Linked DNA regions of Homo sapiens: region 2 is linked to region 1. The links come from fine-mapping of genetic effects on gene expression. Tissue or cell type: whole blood. Region 1 holds a variant in brackets; the other region holds the start of a gene. Each region is shown on its reference strand, or each on the opposite one. Region 1 overlaps LOC105373724 (a long non-coding RNA gene). Region 2 holds the start of PARP12 (poly(ADP-ribose) polymerase family member 12).

What was found. PIP is the estimated chance that this variant, and not a neighbour inherited with it, causes the effect.
Region 2: it holds the start of PARP12, and the variant in region 1 is the best candidate, but not a certain one, in a credible set for the expression of PARP12 in whole blood (TOPMed, PIP 0.78).

What each region holds. Positions count from the first base shown.
Region 1 is chr2:162,249,696-162,259,549 of GRCh38, reverse strand. LOC105373724 (a long non-coding RNA gene) reads right to left here. Exons shown (of 4, transcript XR_923544.3): 3 at 9,263-9,637. Among named protein-coding and RNA genes, the nearest start is that of FAP, 11 kb to the right of the region's middle. The variant T/C (reference allele first, on the strand shown) is at 5,524.
Region 2 is chr7:140,058,057-140,067,643 of GRCh38, reverse strand. It overlaps PARP12 (poly(ADP-ribose) polymerase family member 12), which reads left to right and starts at 4,693. Exons shown (of 12, transcript NM_022750.4): 1 at 4,693-5,122. The coding sequence starts at 4,797. RefSeq lists an enhancer at 4,546-4,755 and a silencer at 4,766-5,085.

The DNA.
Region 1 (9,854 bases):
ACCCCACATTGTTATTATTATTACCCTCCAGCATAACCTCTCTGAGCCTATCAAGTTAGATTTCTTACAGTTTCCCTCTATGCATAAAAATTTCCTCCAGTCCAAAACCATGCAGTATTTCACAGCAAAGTCTCACAACCTCTAATAAATCATCTCTGAGTAAGCCCCTATGTTAATCTTCTCTCTTTTATTTTAGCTTCCCTCACACATCATGCTTTTAATCTGTACACACTGGCAAACATTGTTTACATATTACCTTAGACTTGTTTTCTAGTCATTGTATGTATTTTTGCTTTATGTCTCCAATGGATCTAGTAGCCATTGCACTTATTTATCTGTTCAATATCATCTATTTTATATACCCATTCTCCAGTGGATCTACTCACCATTTATTTACCCATCTATTACATAAGAAACAGACATGGCATGTAGCGAATATAAAGGTTAAGGATGGACTCTGAATGGAGGTGACATTTTAGAGGGTCACTTGGAAAACAAGAAGAGGAAAACAAGAAAAGGACCACCTTAAAGGGTGGAGGGAAGAGACTTCCCGGACAAAAACAACTGCATAGCATGAGTCCCATGTGAAGAAAGCCTGGAATGTTCAAGGAACTGCAAAAAGGCCAGGGTGGTTGAAGAGTGATGAGTAAGGAGAATGACCTAAAATGAGGTTGGAAAAAAGGGCAGAGCCAGCTCACACAGGGCCCCGTTGGCCACTGTCTGGAGCTGGATTTCAGTCTGAAGATAATCAGAAGCTGCTGGAGATTTTCATCCAGGGAGTGACAAGAATTGATATACACTCCAGCTACTCTGACAAATTGGTTGAAAGGGACAAAATAGAAGCAGAGAGAGCAGTTAGATGGCACTAAGCAAGTCTATTGTGTGGAATAGGGCGATAGTGATGGAATGGACTAGAAAAGAGGCATATTGGTGGCAGATTTGTTGATAGACAAGATATGAGGAAATCAAACAAAAGGAGAAATTGAGGATAAGTCTTATAAAAGTACTGACCTCCCCTTCAGATCTCCGTGAATTTAATATACACAATTAAGTTACGTTAAGTACCTGTTGGGGAAGCCAAGTGAGGGCAACAAGGGAAGGACAGCAATGCTTTCCCTAACAAAGCAAAGAATGGTACATGAGACCCTGGCGGACACAGCAAGGACTTCAGTAACATTAGTCACCATCTGAGTGACCACAGAAGATCACTTAACCTCTTATGTCTGTTTCCTTCTCTGTGGGCCAGGACAGCAACATCAAGGGTTTGCGCTCTGGAATCAGACTGCCTAGGTTTTTATTCCAGCTCTTTTGCTTACTCTTAGACAAATTGCTTATCTTCATCCCAGTCTGTAAAATGTGAATAATAACAAGACCTGTGTCTTGTGTTTATAGTGCAGGTTAAATGAAATAATATGAATAATGCATTTAGAACAGTGCCTGGTGCATAGTAAGCAATAAATGTATATCACTAGCTGCTGTGAAATGGATTGTTGGGGGGATTAAATGAGAAAATGTTTGCATAGTAGATAAAAAAATTATAGCTTGCAAAAAACTAAACTGCCTTTGTTTTAGAGAGAGAGAGAAAGAGAGAGACAGAAAGAGAAACTGTCTTTGCTTTAGAAACCCCTAATGGGTGGATTTATTTTTTAAGATGAGACCTTGTTGTGACTCTACTGGGAATGAATCAAGGAAATAGCTTAACTGTTTTGCACAAAACAGGATCATTTAGAAAGAGCTAGAAAGGAAGCAAGAAAATGTTGAAGAAAGACAAAGTCCTTGGAACAGGCAGGAGGCTGGAACCCAAGTAGAAGAAATTACTAGTGGAAATTCCACCATCATTGTCCTAAAACACTAGTAAACCTGCTACTTACTTGGGTTGGTGTTATCTGGCATGAGTAGTCAGGGCTCTCTGGTAGGGCAATGTGGAAATGATGAAGGCAGAGCATGCATACACACAAAAAAGTGGACTCAGAGATTTCTCAATAACAAATGTTGAACACATGTTACAGTTACTGGCACAGAGGAAGCATTCAATAAATATTAATTTCGTTTTCTGATTTGTGATATAAAATGTAATCTCTGACCTTGGAGAGTTAACAAATTGGTTGAGAGTCCAATGATTATAGGCATAAAACTATTAGAAGAAATATAAGCATACAACAACAACATGGTATACAAATTATAGGCACTGTAGAGTTTATAAAAGTCAGGGATCAATCAGAGAAGTTCTGGATTATTTTAGAAAAGATTCTGAATTAGAATAAATAAATAATTCAAATAATGTCTTACATATATGAGGTGTTAGATCCATATTTAATATAATTTAAAGACAGGAAAAGAGTAAGAAGTTTTTTCCAAAAAGAGATAAAGATCAAGAAAGAAGAAGAAAGCCTAATACATTTTGCTTGTGTACTAGAATGCTATACTGTATCTGGGTTTGATTGATAACTAATATGAAGTTATTCTTGAGCAGGGAAATGGCATGTTTTAGAAAAGATGACCTACAAGGAGTTAATGGGCTAAATCAAAGATTGAAGAAAAAAAGTGGAAGGAAAAAGATCAAGGAAAAAGCTGGTTGCAGTCATTCTGGCTGAGGTTAACAAAAATCTGGATTTGGTCATTGGCAGTGGGAGGGGGAATGGGAGGAATGAGTGGCTCTGGATGATGTTCAAATAAAATCATGAGCTAGGGAAAGCAGGCTAGCATGACATTGATGGCAATAAATAAAATAAATATGAAAGTATAGCACAGTTGGTGATAGAAACAAATGCAAGTAATTTATTCGCATCACCTTATTTTTGCCCTAAATATGACTCATAGTTCTGCTTGGTCATCAACTAGTGCCACATGTAGTCATATTCCTGGCATACGGAATAACTATTTTATTGTACCCAAAAATTTGCTCACTGGGCTCCAGCTGTTTCATAGTCTATCCACACTGAGCCATGGCAGATACAATTCTCTTGTCCTGAGGAAAATGTTTAAAGCAAGTCAGAATCTCTTTTGAATAGGAATAGAGCAAACCTTTTAACTTCCCAGAGATTCTGGTTTCCTAGAAGAGTGAACATAATGAGTCTTGAGTACTTACTATGCTCATTTCCACTCTGTCAATGAGGGCAAACTAGTGGTATGACCTAGGTGCTATTTTGGTCTCTGTTTTGAACTGAATTTTTTTTATGAACTCCAAATTTGTATATTGAAGTCTTAACTCCCACTGTGATGGTATTTGGAGATGGGTCCTTTGAGAGTTAATTAGGTTTAGATGAGGTAATGAGGTGTGGCCCTTTTGATGGGATTAGTGCCCTTGCAGAAGAAGAAACCAGAGAGCTCCTCCCACTCCCCCACCCCTCTACCTTGTGATTATATAGTAGGAAGGTGGCTGTCTGCAGGCCAGGAAGAGAGCCCTCACCAGAACCTGACCATGCTGACACCCTGATCTCAGACTTACAGCCTCCAGAACTGTGAGGAGAAAATTAATTTCTGTTGTTCAGGCCACCCAGTCTTTGGCATTTTGCATGGCAGCCTGAGCTAATACAGCCTCTCAATAGCTAAATGAGGAGCCCAAAAGGTTACCAATTTAGAAAGGCCAGGGAAATGTGTTACTGAGAATGTTGCATAACGAGAATGTCCATTATGTTGTTTTTTCCATTTCTACTCTGCTATAGTCTGTGGCCTGAGATAACAACTTTATCAGACTTTAAGATTATCCTGGACCAGCTCTGTCCAATAAAACTATAGTGAGATACACACAACTAATTTAAAAATTTTTAATAGCTACATTTTAAAAAGTCACAAGAAGTAGGTAAAATTAAATTTAATAACTCAATTCAATATAGTCAAAATATTATAGACATGCTACCAATATAAAATTATTAATAAGATAGTTCAAATTTTTTTCCTACTAAGTCTTTAAAAATTGTTGTGATGTGCTATTTTACTCTTATAGCACATCTCAATTTGGACATGCCACATTTCAAGTGCTCAATAGATACATGTGGCTAGTGGCTACTGTACCAGATAGTGTTCTAGACATTTCATTTTTTTAAGAAAGACATAGACACAGTTTGTTTAAATATGAAGTCCCAGTTTTCTTCTTGAGGGTTATTACCTGGCTTTAAAGTCCCTTATTTTTCTCTTAACTCTTTGAAGTCTTCTCTTTCTGGTTGCGCCCATCTTTGTATCATAAAACAATTAATTATAAGACCACGTAATGGACACTGTGGTCCTGCTATGGTTTGAAAGTGTGTGTCCCCTAAAGATTCACATGTTGGAACCTAAGACCCAATGTGATAGTATTAAGAAGGGTCTGTAGGAGGTTATCAGACTATGAGGGCTCTGTCCTCATGTGTGGAATTAGTGCCCTTATAAAAAGGCTTACGGGAGTCAGCTATTAGGCTCCTTTCGCCCTTCCACTCTTTGTCATATGAAGACACAGCAAGAAGGCCCTCACCAGACACCCAAATGCCAGTGCTTTAATCTTGGACTTTGCATCCTTTGGAACTGTGAGAAATAAATTGCTATTGTTTATAAATTACCCAGTCTTAGGTATTTTGTTATAGCAGAGGAATGGACCAAAACAGATTCTTTGTGAAGATTCCCTCTTCAGGGCCAAGGTACTCACCTTCCTGGGGCTATGAATATGGCTGCTGACAGCTCACAGCTGCCTCTCTTAACGAGTATTGTCCTAGGCTGTGGGGAACTATTTCCTCTCAGGCTATGCCCTCTGGAGGGTAGCCTGAAGCCAAATAATGACTGATGAGGGGCATAAGTCTGTTTCATTTACTCCACTTGAGACAACTCTGAAGGGACAGTCCAAATCCTGAAGTCTCTGAAGGGCTGGCTGAGGCCTCCTTTGACACTGTACTGCAGTTCAGCATTTCACTCTGCCCCATGCTGTTTCCTTCACTTTCCTACAGGTGTCTCTTGTAAGAGCAACTCCCCCTTACTCCTTCCAAAAAAATAAGCTGACTCTGTTTGCATCTCTTCATCTCAAAATCTGTTTCCAGGGAACTCAGTTTAAAAGAGAATATAAAGTAGTCTCTTTTTTACCAAGGCAAAATCATTAGCAGTGTTTGAAGTAAGGGAGGAAAAGCAGAACAAGGCTCTGATTCATTTTTGTGTCTTATACTTCCCCACATGCGAGCAAGGCTAGGACGTACTCTGACCCTCTGGCTCTTCATGTCTGTTCACTCCCATTGCCTTTCTTTTCCTATATTTTTCCCAAAGATCAAAGTGACAACTGAGTAAAGGGTATAGTCAAAACTCAGGTTCAGCAACTGCATTGGTCAAAACATGAGAAACATAACCCCAAATGAAAAAGATATCAATGGCACAATATGGTAGCCCATACATGTATTGACACCATTAGAATACTGTCTTGTCTTTACTTTTCCTGACTCTCCAGGGCTGATCTGCATGGGTAGAGATGCTGAGCAGTTCTGCCATTGACATTAGTAGCTTCATCTTCTAATGCAATCATTGCCTTCATTTTCTTTCTTCTTCCTCAGGGAAATTCCACCCTTC[T/C]AGGCTTTATATTTATGACCCCATGCTGGTGTCTGTGGGTCTCTGCTTTCCCAGAACACTCTCTTCACTGCCTTAGACTGGTAGTCTAGTCCAGACTAGTAGTCTTTTAACGCTTTAAAAGATGGGGTGTGGGGAGATCAAATACTCTTTGTCTTAAAACTTGGGCTTGTCTGCTACACAAAGTCCTGCCCATGGTAGTGGCAGTCACATAATAGGACAGTAAATTAATGCCTGAACAGATTGTGCAGTTCCACAGAGTCCACCTTCCCCGGCTTTCCTTTCTCCTGCCTACTGCTTCCTCCATCCTTCTTCACAACTCCCTCCCCTGTGACGCTTTCTTCCAGAGGATGAGTCTGGAGGAGGAGGCAGCATGAAAGGGAGAACTTGCTGCATCAGAGTTTGTGCCAATTGGAGGGAAAGCGCAATCCCTCAGCAGCCTGATGGTCCAGATGGCCCCAAAGGCTTTGCAGAGCTCAGAGGCCCCCAGACAACTCCTTGTCTACATCAGCTTAGCATTGCCACTAAAATTGATGTTATACCAAGTCATCCCCCAAAAGCATGGTAAATCACTTGTTATAAAAAAAGAGTCCCACAGTTTTGGCACATGAACCTCACAAGGATTTTTCGAGATTTCTAGCATTTCCAGAATTTAATCAAATGATTGTTCTTATAATTAATTATAGTATTCTAGTACTATTATATATTTTTATAAAAATTACAATTGCTGAAAAGAATCACAGTGGAACACAGTATTATTAGATAATGCATTCATTCAAATTTCACTAATTAAAATGTCAAAAGGAAGTAGACATGGAGTTCAACTAATTCTCAATTTACTAATCCATAAAACAGATACTTCTCATAAATAGCTGGTAATCTTTCCTCAGTTCTCAGGAAAAATAACTGAATAGCTGCAGTAAACTCTCCTATTACTAATTCTCCACATTACAATTTTTTTAAAACCTACAATTTATCTTGAAAGGCACCCTGAAGCAGTAGCACAAGGATTAAATGCCCATTTTTAGATAACAATAGTTAACGTCTAATTGTTTAATAAAAAAAAGGAGCTTGACCCTTTCCTGGTAACACCTGGAAGTGCTCCCTCTTGGTGTTGTCTAGCCTGGGCCATGGAGGGCCGCAGGACAGCTCCGTATCCTCTCTGTCATTCATTCATTAATTCATTCAGGCAACGATATTGATTAAATACTTATTTTATGCCAAGCATTGTTCCTCAGCTCTTGGGATATATGAGCAAAACAAACAAAAGTACTTGCCCTCATGGAGCTCCATGCAGGGAAAAGAGGCAATAAGCAATAAAAATAATAAATGTTTTAAGATGTTGGATGGTGGTAAGATCTATGGGGGGGAAGAAAGTAAGATCAGAAAAATGGGAAGCTAAGGGGAGCTGATTTTAAATGGGGAATTGGGCCTAATTTAGAAGGTAACATTTGAGCAAGGACTTAGCCCATTTTGGTAATGTCTTTATTATTTTTTCATCCATAAATCTTATGTTCCTATCATTCTCTTTTTCTTTCCCAGTGCCTTCTACCAGACACATAAGAAACATTATGTATGCATGGGCTTAAAACTACACAGACCTTGAGTCAGGGCCAGTTAATTTTTTCATGATAGCATCTGATTTATATCTGGAAAACCTGAGGCCTGGCCTTACACATTGTAACAGTATGATATGACGATATGATGTAAGATATGCTACACAAATTTCTGTCTTCTCCTTTCCTAGTCTCTTTACTGCCTTAAAATCTACTTCCTGAAATAGTTACATAACTTTCCCATCAGCCAGCCATGCTGCCTAAATTCACCACCGTTAAGATATTCATTACTTTAGATTAAAGCATGGCATTTTTAGTGATTCTCTTTTAAAATTCAAACTTGCCATGGGAATAAGACTTTAAAAAAAATCATTCAAGCTCATGAAAGAAAAAGGCTGCATTTGTGGCATGGCTCCCTCTGATGGGCCAGCGGCCAAACTAGAGGACACGGAGTCCAGGAAGTCCACAGCGGAGACCAGGCAAGGACTGGAAGGTCCTATACTTGACCCTGATATTTTTTACTTACACAAAGAAATATGTTCTATAACTTTCTTGATTAGCTGGCCCTCTCACCTAATTTTATTTTCTCACTGGGATACCATATTTTTTACCTCTGATGGAATAGCACACCAAGGAAGGGGTATGGTAGGAGTAGAGTCATCTGCCTCAGCAGGAAAAAATGTTCTATCTTGAAAATAGTTTAGATTTTCTGGACATGGTGATAATAAAGAGAAGACCAACTTTTAGTGAGAATTACTACTATTTACAAATATACCGTAGACATTGCACCGCTTTTTTTATCTGCTTCCAGGGCAGACCATGGCACCAAGCCCCACCTTGGTACTCATGGCTCTGAGACATGTATTTCCAGAGTTTTCACTATGTACACAGCTACATAAACATTTCCTTCTTCCCCTCCACAAAAATAAAGTCGTATTATATATACTAAGCAACAGAATGTAGACATTTTCCATGTCAACCAATTTAGACCTGCACCATTCATTTTTATGTGTTACATAATTTATTTATCTAATTTTGTCTGGATGAATTCTTAAATAGTTTTAATTTCTGGATATTGTAAACAAAGTTTCAAAAAGTATTCTTGAACTTGCATCTTTGTACATTTATCCAATGTTAACCTTAAAGTACATTCCTAGAGTTAGATTTGCTATACCAAAAAATATGCATAATTTTGACATTTACTCGTAAACTTCCCTCCAGAAAGTTTTCAGTCCTTCTTCTACCACCAGCTGATTATGAAAGTGCCAACTTCTCTACAGCCTTGCTACCAGTGTGGTTCTCCAATCTTTTTAATCTCTGATAATCCAAATTAAAATGATCCTATTTTGATATTTTATTTTGCATTTCTTTGATTCCTGGTAATATTTAACATTTTTATTTTTATATTTTCACCTTTTGTGAATGTGTGGGTTTGCCTGCATGAACTGCCTGCTTTGGTCCTTTACCCATTTTTTTTTTTTTTTGAACTGCACTGTGGACCAAATGTTCCTAAAAAGGGAAAAAGACGCCAAGCACAAATTCCATCTATAGTATGAGACTACTTAGGAATAGACCTAATATCCATCACATGAGTTTGTAGACTTATTTTTGAACTTCTGAAATGATATTTAAAAATCATATGGCTTCTGTATTTCTATGAATGTAAGCATTTCCCTTCCTACAATGTGTTCTCAACACCATTTGTTGATGACATGGCAGGGACTGTTAAGTGTACCTCCAATTCTTATTCTGGTCTTCACAGGGCAGATCTCTTCACTACCTGCTTTGGGAGATGAGGACATGGGCTTTCCTGCCCTCTGTCTACCTTACCTACCTTTCTTCACTCTCTTTCACTTCCCGACTTTGGTTACATGTACATTTACCTTTATACTTGTCAAGGTTGACAATTTCTCTGACTATAAAGGTCTCAGTGACTTCTAAAAATTTTAAATCAATAAACAGTTTAAATTGCTATGGCTACCTAAGCATTGCTCTTGAGCTAACTGGTTTGGTAGGATCACATTTCTTTCTCTGTGGCACCAATTCCCGTGCTGTTCAGCGGAGAACGTACATAGAGATTCTGCTTTTACAGTCCATCTAGTATCTCCAAACATTATTGTGACTACCAGAACTCTTGGTTCCAAATGGTATGAAAAACAACCCAAACTTGGAAAAAAATTACTTACTCAAGAAAATAGATCTGACTTCAGAAGTGGCTGGAGATAGGAAGTCACACAATGTTTGTTGTTAGCATCTGGTCTGGTCATTTGCTCTCTGAGTGATGGCTCTAGTACTTTACTTCTTTATTTTGCTGAAATACACCCTTGAGTTCCTTTCTACAAAAGAATGCTTGGAGTATAAACTCTGAATTATGACACATCTGAAAATCTTTTATTTGGTCTTCATATTTGGCAGTGTCTTAGCTAAGCAGATTCTAGTTTGATTAGCATTTTATTTCAGAACTCTGAAAAACAGATCCATTGTTTTGCAGCATCTGATTGGCAATGACAAGTGTGTGGTCAGTCCAATTCTTGCTTCTTTCACATGATACTTTTTTTTTCCTAAGGAAGAATATAAAATTTATCTTTATAATCAATATTATAGAATTTCACAATTATGTGTTTAGGTAAAAGTCTTTTCTCATATTTTGTGCTGGACATTTTGTGGGCCCTGAAAAATGTATTTTCTTTTACAGTTTGGGGAAATTCCCTTGCATTCATTCTGTAAGAACCTCTTCCCCTCTGCCTTCTCTGCCCTTTATTCCTCAAACTTCCTGAG
Region 2 (9,587 bases), not on the chromosome of region 1:
CTTTCCTTCCCCATTTCCTTCTGCTGTTATTGTCACAAATTACATCTTCAAAACATTGTCCATCAACTTATATTTGTAATTACTGCATTATGTAGTTGTCTTAAATCAGATGATGGGGGTTACAAACAAAAAATACGTTTATACTGTCTTTTTCATTTACCTGTGTAGTTACCTTTACTGGTGCTTTTCTTTCTTCATGAGAATTCCAGTTGCTGTTTAGTGTCTTTCACTTTCAGCCCAAACGACTCTCTTTAGTGTTTCTCCCAGTGCTAGCAACTAACGGGCTCAGCTTTAGTTTATCTGGGAATATCTTAATTTCTCCTTCATTTCTGAAAGATAGTTTTGCTGGATATAAAATTCTTGGTTGATTCTTTTCACATTTTGAATACATCATCACACTACCCTCTGCATGCATGGTTTTTGATGAGAAGTTAACTGTTTTTATTTTATTGTTGATTCCTTGTGCATGATGAGTTGCTACTTTCTTGCTGCTTTCAAGATTCTCTTTGTTTTCAAAAGTTTGATTATGATGTGTCTAGGTGTAGATCTATTTGAGTTTTTCCTACTTGGAATTCATTAAGCTTCTTGGATGTGTAGATTAATGTTTTTCATCAAATCTGAGAAATTTTAGCCAAAATTTCTTCATATATTCTCGCTTTCCTTTCTCTCTCTCTCTTCTCCTTCTAAGACTTCCATTTTGTGTTATTGGTATATCTGATGGTGTCCCACAGGTCTCTGAGGCTCTTTTCATTTTTCTTTTTCGTTTCTGTTCCACAGACCAGATAATCATCAATTGATCTATCTTCAAGTTTGCTGATTTTTTTTTTCTTTCGCATGCTCAAATCTGCTGCTGAACCCTTCTAGTGAATTTAACATTTCAGTTATTGTACTTTTTGGCTCCAGAACCTTTATTGGTTCCTTATTATAATTTCTGTGTCTTTATTAATATTCTGTTTGGCAAGGCATCATTCTCATCCTTTCTTTTACATTTTTAGAGATGGTTTCCTTTAGCTCTGTGAACATATCAAAAATAGCTGATTTACACTCTTTGTCTACAAAGTTCAGCATCTGGGTTTTCTTAGGAACAGTTTTTATTGATTGCTCTTATTTCCTTTGTATGGGTCTTACTTTCTTGTTTCTTTGCAAGTCACATAATTTTTAGTTGAAAATTGGACATTTCAAACAATGTGCCAACTCTCAAAGTCAGATACTCCTCTCTCCTCAGGGTTTGATTGTGCTTATTTTAGTATTAGGTTGGTGCAAAAATAATTGCGGTTTGCACCAACCTAATAGTTGCTGTTTAGTAACTTTTTTGAACTAATTTTTTAAAGTGTGTATCTTCATTGTGTGTGACTATTGAAGTCTCTACTTGGTCAACTAATGATTAGATGGAGATTTCCTTAAACACCTGGAACCAATATGTCTCCTAGTCTTTGCCAAGGGGCTCTGTATGCACTTTGGGGTATGTCTTCAATTTTCATTAGGCAGTTTGCAACTCTGCATAGCTTTTATTTCCTGCTAGCACAGAGCCTCAGTGTCAGCTAGTAGTGAGAGGTTAGGATCTTCTCAGGTGTTAACAGAGCATGTGCACAGCCCTACACATGCACATGGCCTTCTAAATTCCTGAAAATATACTGGAGCTTTTCAAAGCCCCTATGGACATCTCTTCCTTCAACGTTTCCTTTTACATTTCTTTGTTAGTCTATTGTTTGCCCCTACCGTTACCTATTGCCTCAGCCAGTTACAATGTTAAAATATTTGACAAATCACTCCCTCTTCAGGTGGAAAAACCTTTAGGACTGAGCTAGTTCCAAAGAGGTTGAATAAAGACAACCCTTTTCAGGATTTTTTTCCAGGGACCCACTAGATAGGTTAAATAATGACTCTTCTTTGGGAATGAGACTTTGAAGTAGCTCCAGCCCTGTCTCCTCCCTCTGGTACAGGTACTAGGAACGTGGGCTGTAAGTTTTCAAGGCTGCCATGGAACTAGAGATGGGGGTGCGATAGGACTAGGGTAAATTAAAATACTATAAATATTGCTGTTCTTACTGAGAGTTTGCTGTTTTTCCTGACTAAATGCCAGATGGGTTGCTGCAAACCTGTGACTAATTTCTAGGGCTCTAAGAAAGTTGATTCTGACAATTTTTGTCAGTTCTTTCCTTGCTTCCTTTATGGAAGGGCAAACTTGCTGGGATACTTAATCCACCATTTTCACTGACATCACTCTTCCTTTCTTTTTTAAAAAATGTTATTTTATTGCAAAAAAATATGGAAACCACAACTAAAATTAACTTTTTTTTTGAGACGGAGTCTTGCTCTGTTGCCCAGGCTGGAGTGCAACGGTGCGATCTTGACTCACTGCAACCTCCGCCTCCCTGGTTCAAACGATTTTCCTGCCTCAGCCTCCCAGGTAGCTGGGATTACAGGCACACACCATCACACCTGGCTAATTTTTGTATTTTTAGGAGAGATGGGGTTTCACCAAGTTGGCCAGGCTGGTCTTGAACTCCTGACCTCAAGTGATCCACCCACCTCGGCCTCCCAAAATGCTGGGATTACATGCGTGAGCCACTGCACTCTGCCTAACATTTTAAATTAAAAATTAACATTTTAGGCTAGGCGTGGTGGCTCACTGTAATCCCAGCACTTTAGGAATCTGAGGTGGGAGGACTGCTTGAGGCCAGGAGTTCAAGATCAGCCTGGGCAACAAATGAGACAGTGTCTCTACAAAAAAATATAAAAATTATCTGGGCATGGTGGCACGTGCCTCTAGGCCCAGCTACTTGGGAGGCTAAGGTGGAAGGTTCGCTTGAGCCCAGAAGTTCCAGGTTGTAGTGAGCTATGACTGTACCATTATACTACAGCCTGGGTGACAGACCAAGACCTTGTCTCTAAAACAATAACAAAAACAAAATTAACATTTTATACAATGAAAACATTAAAATCACAATTAAAATCCAAGAGAAAACCCTTCATTCAATTTCCTAATTAAATAAATTCATTTTCATTTGTCCATGTTACTATCTAGTCTTTATCCATACACTTATTATTTACATTTTTGTAGTAATAGTACAGGTAATTTTTTTTTTTTTTTTAAAGATGGAGTCTCACTCTGTCGCCCAGGCTGGAGTGCAGTGTCATGATCTCCGCTCACTGCAATCTCTGCCTCCCGGATTCAAGCGATTCTCCTGCCTGTCTCCCGAGTAGCTGGGATTACTGGCGCCCGTTACCACGCCCGGCTAATTTTTACGTTTTTAGCAGAGACGGGGTTTCACCACGTTGGCCAGGCTGGTCTCAAACTACTGACCTCAAGTGATCCGCCCGCCTTGACCTCCCAAAGTGCTGGGATTACAGGCGTGAGCCACTGTGCCTGGCCTATAGTTAAGATTTTTATATTCATTTTTAGTGAATGTTATACCGTATACCGTAAGTACTCTCCCCCCACAATCCTTCTGCCTCTCATCTTCCCTTTTCCATTTTCCTAATACCTCCTACTGCCTCCTCTCAACTACCCTTGTGTGTTTCTTCATCTTTCTCCGTGCTTATTCAAAAATATCCTGCCACACACACACACACAGGCTTCTCTTTTTGTTATTCAGACATTTAAAAAAATTAATTCTTGATCATTCAACTTGATTATTTAGACATTTCTGTACAGCCATCTTTTCTCGTTTACCACCACATCATGGCTGTCTGCCCCTCTACATCCGCACACGGAGCTCTAACGCATGCTTGTTAAACAGCCTTCGTAATAGTCTTTAAAGATCAACCACACTGTTCCCACGTAACCCTACCTCCCAGGTAGGGTTCCCCCAGTAACACTTTCACACATAACTTATTTACTGTTCCTTTTACTTCTGGAAGATTCCGAGAGGAAAGATTGCTGGGTCAAAGGTCACACGCGTTTTCAATTTTAATAGCTATTCCTGGATTACCTCCTCAAAGGGCTCTAACAACTCGCATTGCTCTCAGCGTGTGAGAGGGTCCTTTGCTCTGAAGGGTCTTCTAAAATATTTGTTCAATCGTTACTTAGCAGGGGCTGGGAGTAACGGATTTTATTTTATTTTATTTTATTTTTTGAGACGGAGTCTCGCTCTGTCGCCCAGGCTGGAGTGCAGTCGCGCAATCTCGGCTCACGGATTTGCTCTTTTAAAGGACATACCCTTTTATGTTTAAATGAAGGAACTCATTGATGCACCGAGGCGAAAGGAACCTTTAATTAAGTGCGTCTTCTATGCGGAGTGATCGCTTTTGTCACTTGTTCGAGGGGTGAGAGCTCCCGTCAGTTGTCCCTGTTTCTGTGAGCCGTCTACGAAGCCCGGGCTTGGCCTGGGCGACGCTGAGCGGCTTTAACCGGCGGCGTCCAGCCGGCTCCGCCAGCGCTGCCGCCGCCCTCGAGGCTCCCTCTGACTGAAGGCGCGCTGAGCATCGCGGCATTAGGGGCTCCTGGTCCCTCAAACATCCAGGGAAGCCATTTTCAGGGACTAGGTACTGACCCCCGCGAGCCGCCACAGCCACAGCCCGCGCTCCGGGCCGAACGCCCGAGCTCAAGAGCTCCCGAGCTTCCGTCGGGCGGCGGCCTCACAGCTGGGGGCCCTGAGGCGGAAGGCGCAGCCGCTCAGCTGCGGACCGGGGGCGTGGCGAGGGCGCACAGGTTCTGTTTTTCGCCGGCCCGGGGCCGCTTTCGGTTTCGTTTCCCGCCGGCGTCTCCACCCTGCGAGAGCCGCCCGCCAGCCAGCGTCCGCCGCCGTCCGCGTCGCGCCACCCGCGGTCCGACGGGAGCAGGCCCAGCGGCCATGGCCCAGGCCGGCGTCGTCGGTGAGGTCACCCAGGTGCTGTGCGCGGCCGGGGGCGCCCTGGAGTTGCCCGAGCTGCGGCGCCGCTTGCGGATGGGCTTGAGCGCCGACGCGCTGGAGCGGCTGCTGCGGCAGCGTGGGCGCTTCGTGGTGGCGGTGCGGGCGGGCGGCGCAGCCGCGGCCCCGGAGCGCGTGGTGCTGGCCGCCTCGCCGCTGCGCCTGTGTCGCGCGCACCAGGGCTCCAAGCCGGGCTGCGTGGGGCTCTGCGCGCAGCTCCACCTCTGCAGGTTCATGGTCTACGGCGCCTGCAAGTTCCTGAGAGCCGGGTAAGGCGCCGCGCCGGGAGCGACGGCGGGCGGAGGTCCTGCGCGCCCTCACGCACTTCCAGCCCGCTTGGGGGTCCTACTTGAAGTTTGAGCAGACAATTCGGTGGCTCTGCCCTGACCTCGCACCGTCATTCACTAAAGCGAGCGTTTAATGAGCACCTGCGGAGTACCTGGCACAGTGCGAGGGACTCAGGGTCGAGTGGGGTCCTCTAGACGCCTGGGGGGAGAGAGTGATTTACATAGAGCATGGTAGTGCCGGGTGGAACACCCGGGTGTGGCCGTGTGGGGTGGGGAGGGAGGGAGGCGGCGGCTTAGGGGAACTCCACGACGCCGCGGGTCGCCCCTTGCCAGCTTTGAGGCCAGACAATGAAGGTTTTCTCTGCCCAGCAGCTGGTAGAGATCTTTAAACCCAGTTCAACCCTATTAATCTGCTTACAAACTGGAAAATGCAGACTCCCTGCCATCGCCCACAAGGTCCTGGGGCACTGGTCCCTGCCCACCCAGGACCCTTCTGTGACTGGAACACCCCCCCCCCCCCGGGCATTTCTGGGAGCCTGGGCATTTCTGGGAGTCTTTGCTCTGCCTGGAATGCCCTTCTTGCTCTTGGTTGGCCCTATTTGTTAATCCTTCAGGCCTCAACCTAAAGATCACATCCCATTTGAGGATTTTTCCTCCCCTTACTCTTGGTCACAGGGAACTGTTTATTTTCCTCATGGCACCCAGCTGCCAGTAGAATAGAAACTCCCTGAGGGCAGAGGCTCCAGCTGTCTCCCCAGCACTTAGCGTCCATGTTCTGTGCATAGCATGTGGCCAGTGGGATGTGTGGAAGGGATTGCTGAGGTTTATGCTAAAGAATTTGGGCCTCACCCTGGAGGTGATGGGGCGGGTAAAATGGCAGGAGAGAGCAACCATCAGGTTTGCGTTTTAGGAAGTCTAAGGTAGTGGTGTGGGTGCCAATTTAAGGGAGGATGTTGTGGGGGAACCACTGGGAAGCTAGTCATCAAGGAGAATTCCTTCCTCCCCTGCTCCCTCCTTTCTTGCTTGCTCCCTGTTTTGTGTGTGTGTGTGTATGTTTGTCTTAATAGAGTAGATATTTCTTGCTCATGTCAGGCCCAGTAGTGAGCATGGGGTGGGGGCCTTGATCCATACAGTCATTCAGGGATGCAGGCTGACTGACCTCCGCTCTGTGCCCCTCAGCACATGGCTCTTGAGGCCAGCCTAGGTTATCAAGTTCGAGGGGGCTGATCGAAAAGAGGGATGCATGGGAGGTTTTTGTGGGCCAGGTCTAGAAGTGGTGGATTTCCTTTCACCCACATCCCATTGACCAGAAGCTGTCTCGTGACCCTGTCTAGATGCAGGGTGACTGGGAAATGCCTCTAGGAAGCAGCTGTCTGGAAGTATCTAGATTAGAGCTTTCCAAGGGCTATGTGTGTGAGAAATTTGGGATAGCTGGTGACGGTGTGATGAGAGGATATGTGAGAGGTGACGACTCTTCAGTCTCTGTTCCTGCGGTGGCCTGGGTGTTGTTCACTGAGAGAGCAAGAGAGGGTTTTAGTTTGGAAGCATGCCCAGGAGGCAGCTGTTCAGGTCAGAAGCTTGGGAGGAAGGCCAGGGCCCCAATGCGCTGGGCTGGTTTGGGAGATATTGGGCGGTGTATGTTGTAGTTGCAGCCCCAGGAGTGGATCAGATCTGAGGTAGCGTCTGAGGCCTGAAAAGAGGCTGAGGGTGGAACTCTGGGGAAATCAGCCTTCAGGGATGAGGCAGTCCAGGGGAGAGCAGGGAACAACAGCCCACGAGGAGGAAGGCACACAGCAAATGGTGGCTGGATAGAGCCACTCATGGGGGTAACTGGTAGATCTGTTTCATGTTCATATTTGGTAAAATAAAGATGGCAGCCCTGTTCTTAAGCTAGTTCCCAAAATGTGGGGTCAGGTCTGACTTGTCTCGGAAATCTGTAGTGTGATATTTACTGGCTCAGATGACCTTGAGTTTTCTTCTTTCTTCAGTTTTCTCTTTTCCTTGTGGTTTACACAGGTGAGTTTCTTGAACCTTCCATTTCTGACTCACTTTAGGGAGAGTGGGTGTGGTTGGCTGCACTTTTCTGCTTCCCCTGTGACTCTGCTTGTCTTCCTGAACCGCAGGGTCAGTTCTTTTAGAAATAGCTCATCAGTCCTGCTGCAGAGCTGGTACGGAGTCCTGGGTGCCTGACTCTTAGTCCTCTACTCAGGAGGCATTGAGCCTGGTGGTCTAGGGCACAGTCCCAAGATCCAGCCCACCTTGTTTCAACCTGGGCTCTGCTCCTTGCTAGCTGATGGCTTCGGGCAAGTGACTTTACCTCCAGGTCTCAGTTCCCTCATCTGCAAAGTGGAGTTAATGATATTACTACCCTCACAGGCTGGTTGAGGACTGAATGATTAACTCATAAAACATTTTGGCAATCCCCGATATTTGGCAGTTGCTCAATAAATTTTAGTAGTCATTATCATTGTTACCATCAGTCATCGTTACACTTATTAGATATATTTGGCTCTGGCAGCACCAAATTATTTGCCCCTCTTCTGGAATGTTCTTCCTTTCTCTTGCTGTCTCCTCCTCACCCTTTAAGTATTCCACTCAGGCTTTATGCCATCCAGCATGCTCCCCTGATTTCTTCCCCAGTTCTCTCCCAGCCCTGACTGGCTCAGGTGCCCTTCCGCTCTGCGCTGACAGATTCTGACAACAGCTGACGTTGCACTTTCCACTCCGTATCAGAGTCTCCTCTATGTCTGTCACCTCCGCTAGATGAGGGAAAGAGAGCAGGCAAGGATGGCTTCAGGGTTTTTGGTCTGTGCAGTGGGAGAGGGAAGTTGCCTTTTACTGAGCTGGGGGATTCTGTAAAAGGTGCAGGTTTGGGGTGGATCAGGGTTTGGCATTCTCCTGAGATGTGGCATAGGAGGCATGGCAGTGCCAGAGTCAAACAAATGCTGTTGGCCTGACTCTTCTGGGTCCTGGTGACTCAGGCAGTCATTTAAAGGTTTATCTTTGGGTTCTCAGGGCATGGTGCCAATGTCTGGCTCACCCTGGTGCTTATCAGACGCTTGTGGATGGAAAGAATGGAGGAAGAGAGCAAAAAAAAAAAAGCTAGGTTCAGGGCTCTGTGTGTGTGTGTGTGTGTGTGTGTATACACGCCTGCACGCATGCACATATGTAACCTATAATGATAAGATGCCATGCTCATTGATTCAGCCTGTGGCTAACTGCTTACCGACTGACTGCTGTGCAGCAACTCCTCTTTGTCATTCTCATCAAATGCTTGTTCAGAGGCGCTGTCCTGGGCCTTAGACCTTGCAAGGCCCCATCTCCTCCTTGGTAAATACACATTGGATTTTTTGTTGTTGTCATGTAGACATGCTGGTTTTTCTTTTTTTCTTTCTTTTTTTTTTTTTTGAGACAGAGTCTCGCTCCTGTTGCCCAGGCTGGAGTGCAATGGCGCAATCTTGGCTCACCACGGCCTCCGCCTCCTGGGTTCAAGCGATTGTCCTGCCTCAGCCTCCTGAGTAGCTGGGATTACAGGCATGCACCACCTCGCCCGGCTAATTTTGTATTTTTAGTAGATACAGGTTTTCTTCATGTTGGCCAGGCTAGTCTCGAACTCCCGACCTCAAGTGATCCATCCACCCTGGCCTCCTAGAGTCCTGGGATTATAGGCGTGAGCCACCATACCCAGCCTACATGCTGGTTTTTCTCTGGTGCTTGTAAATACTGTCAGGAAGTGTTTCTGAAAAATTGTCATGAAGACTGATTTTATCAGCTTTCAGTTTGCCAGCGCTGCCATAACAAAGTACCATAGACTAGGAGGCTTAAACGACAGAAATCGATTTTGTCACAGTTCTGGAGGCTAGAAGTCTGAGATCAAGGTGGCAGGGTTGATTTCTTCTGAGGCCCCTCTCCTTGGCTTGTAGATGGCCACCTTCTCACCATGTCCTCGCATGGTCTTCCCTCTGTGTGTGTCTGTGCCCCAATCTCTTCTTTTTTTTTTTTTTGAGACTGAGTCTCACTCTGTTGCCCAGGCTGGAGTGCAGTGGCTCACTGCAAGCTCCGCCTCTCGGGTTCATGCCATTCTTCTGCCTCAGCCTCCAGAGTAGCTGGGACTACATGCGCTCACCACCACGCCCCGCTAATTTTTTATATTTTTAGTAGAGACGGGGTTTCACTGTGTTAGCCAGGATGGTCTCAATCTCCTGACCTCGTGATCCTCCTGCCTCGGCCTCCCAAAGTGCTGGGATTACGGGCATGAGCCACCGTGCTTAGCCAAATCTCTTCTTATAAGGACAGTAGTCTTGTGGGTTTGGGGCCCACCCTATGGACCTCTTTTTAACTTAATTACCTCTTTAGAGACCTTCTTTCCAAATAGAGCCATATCCTGAGGTCGTGGGAGTTAGGACTCCAACATAGAAATTTTGAGGAGACTCAATTCGACATATAA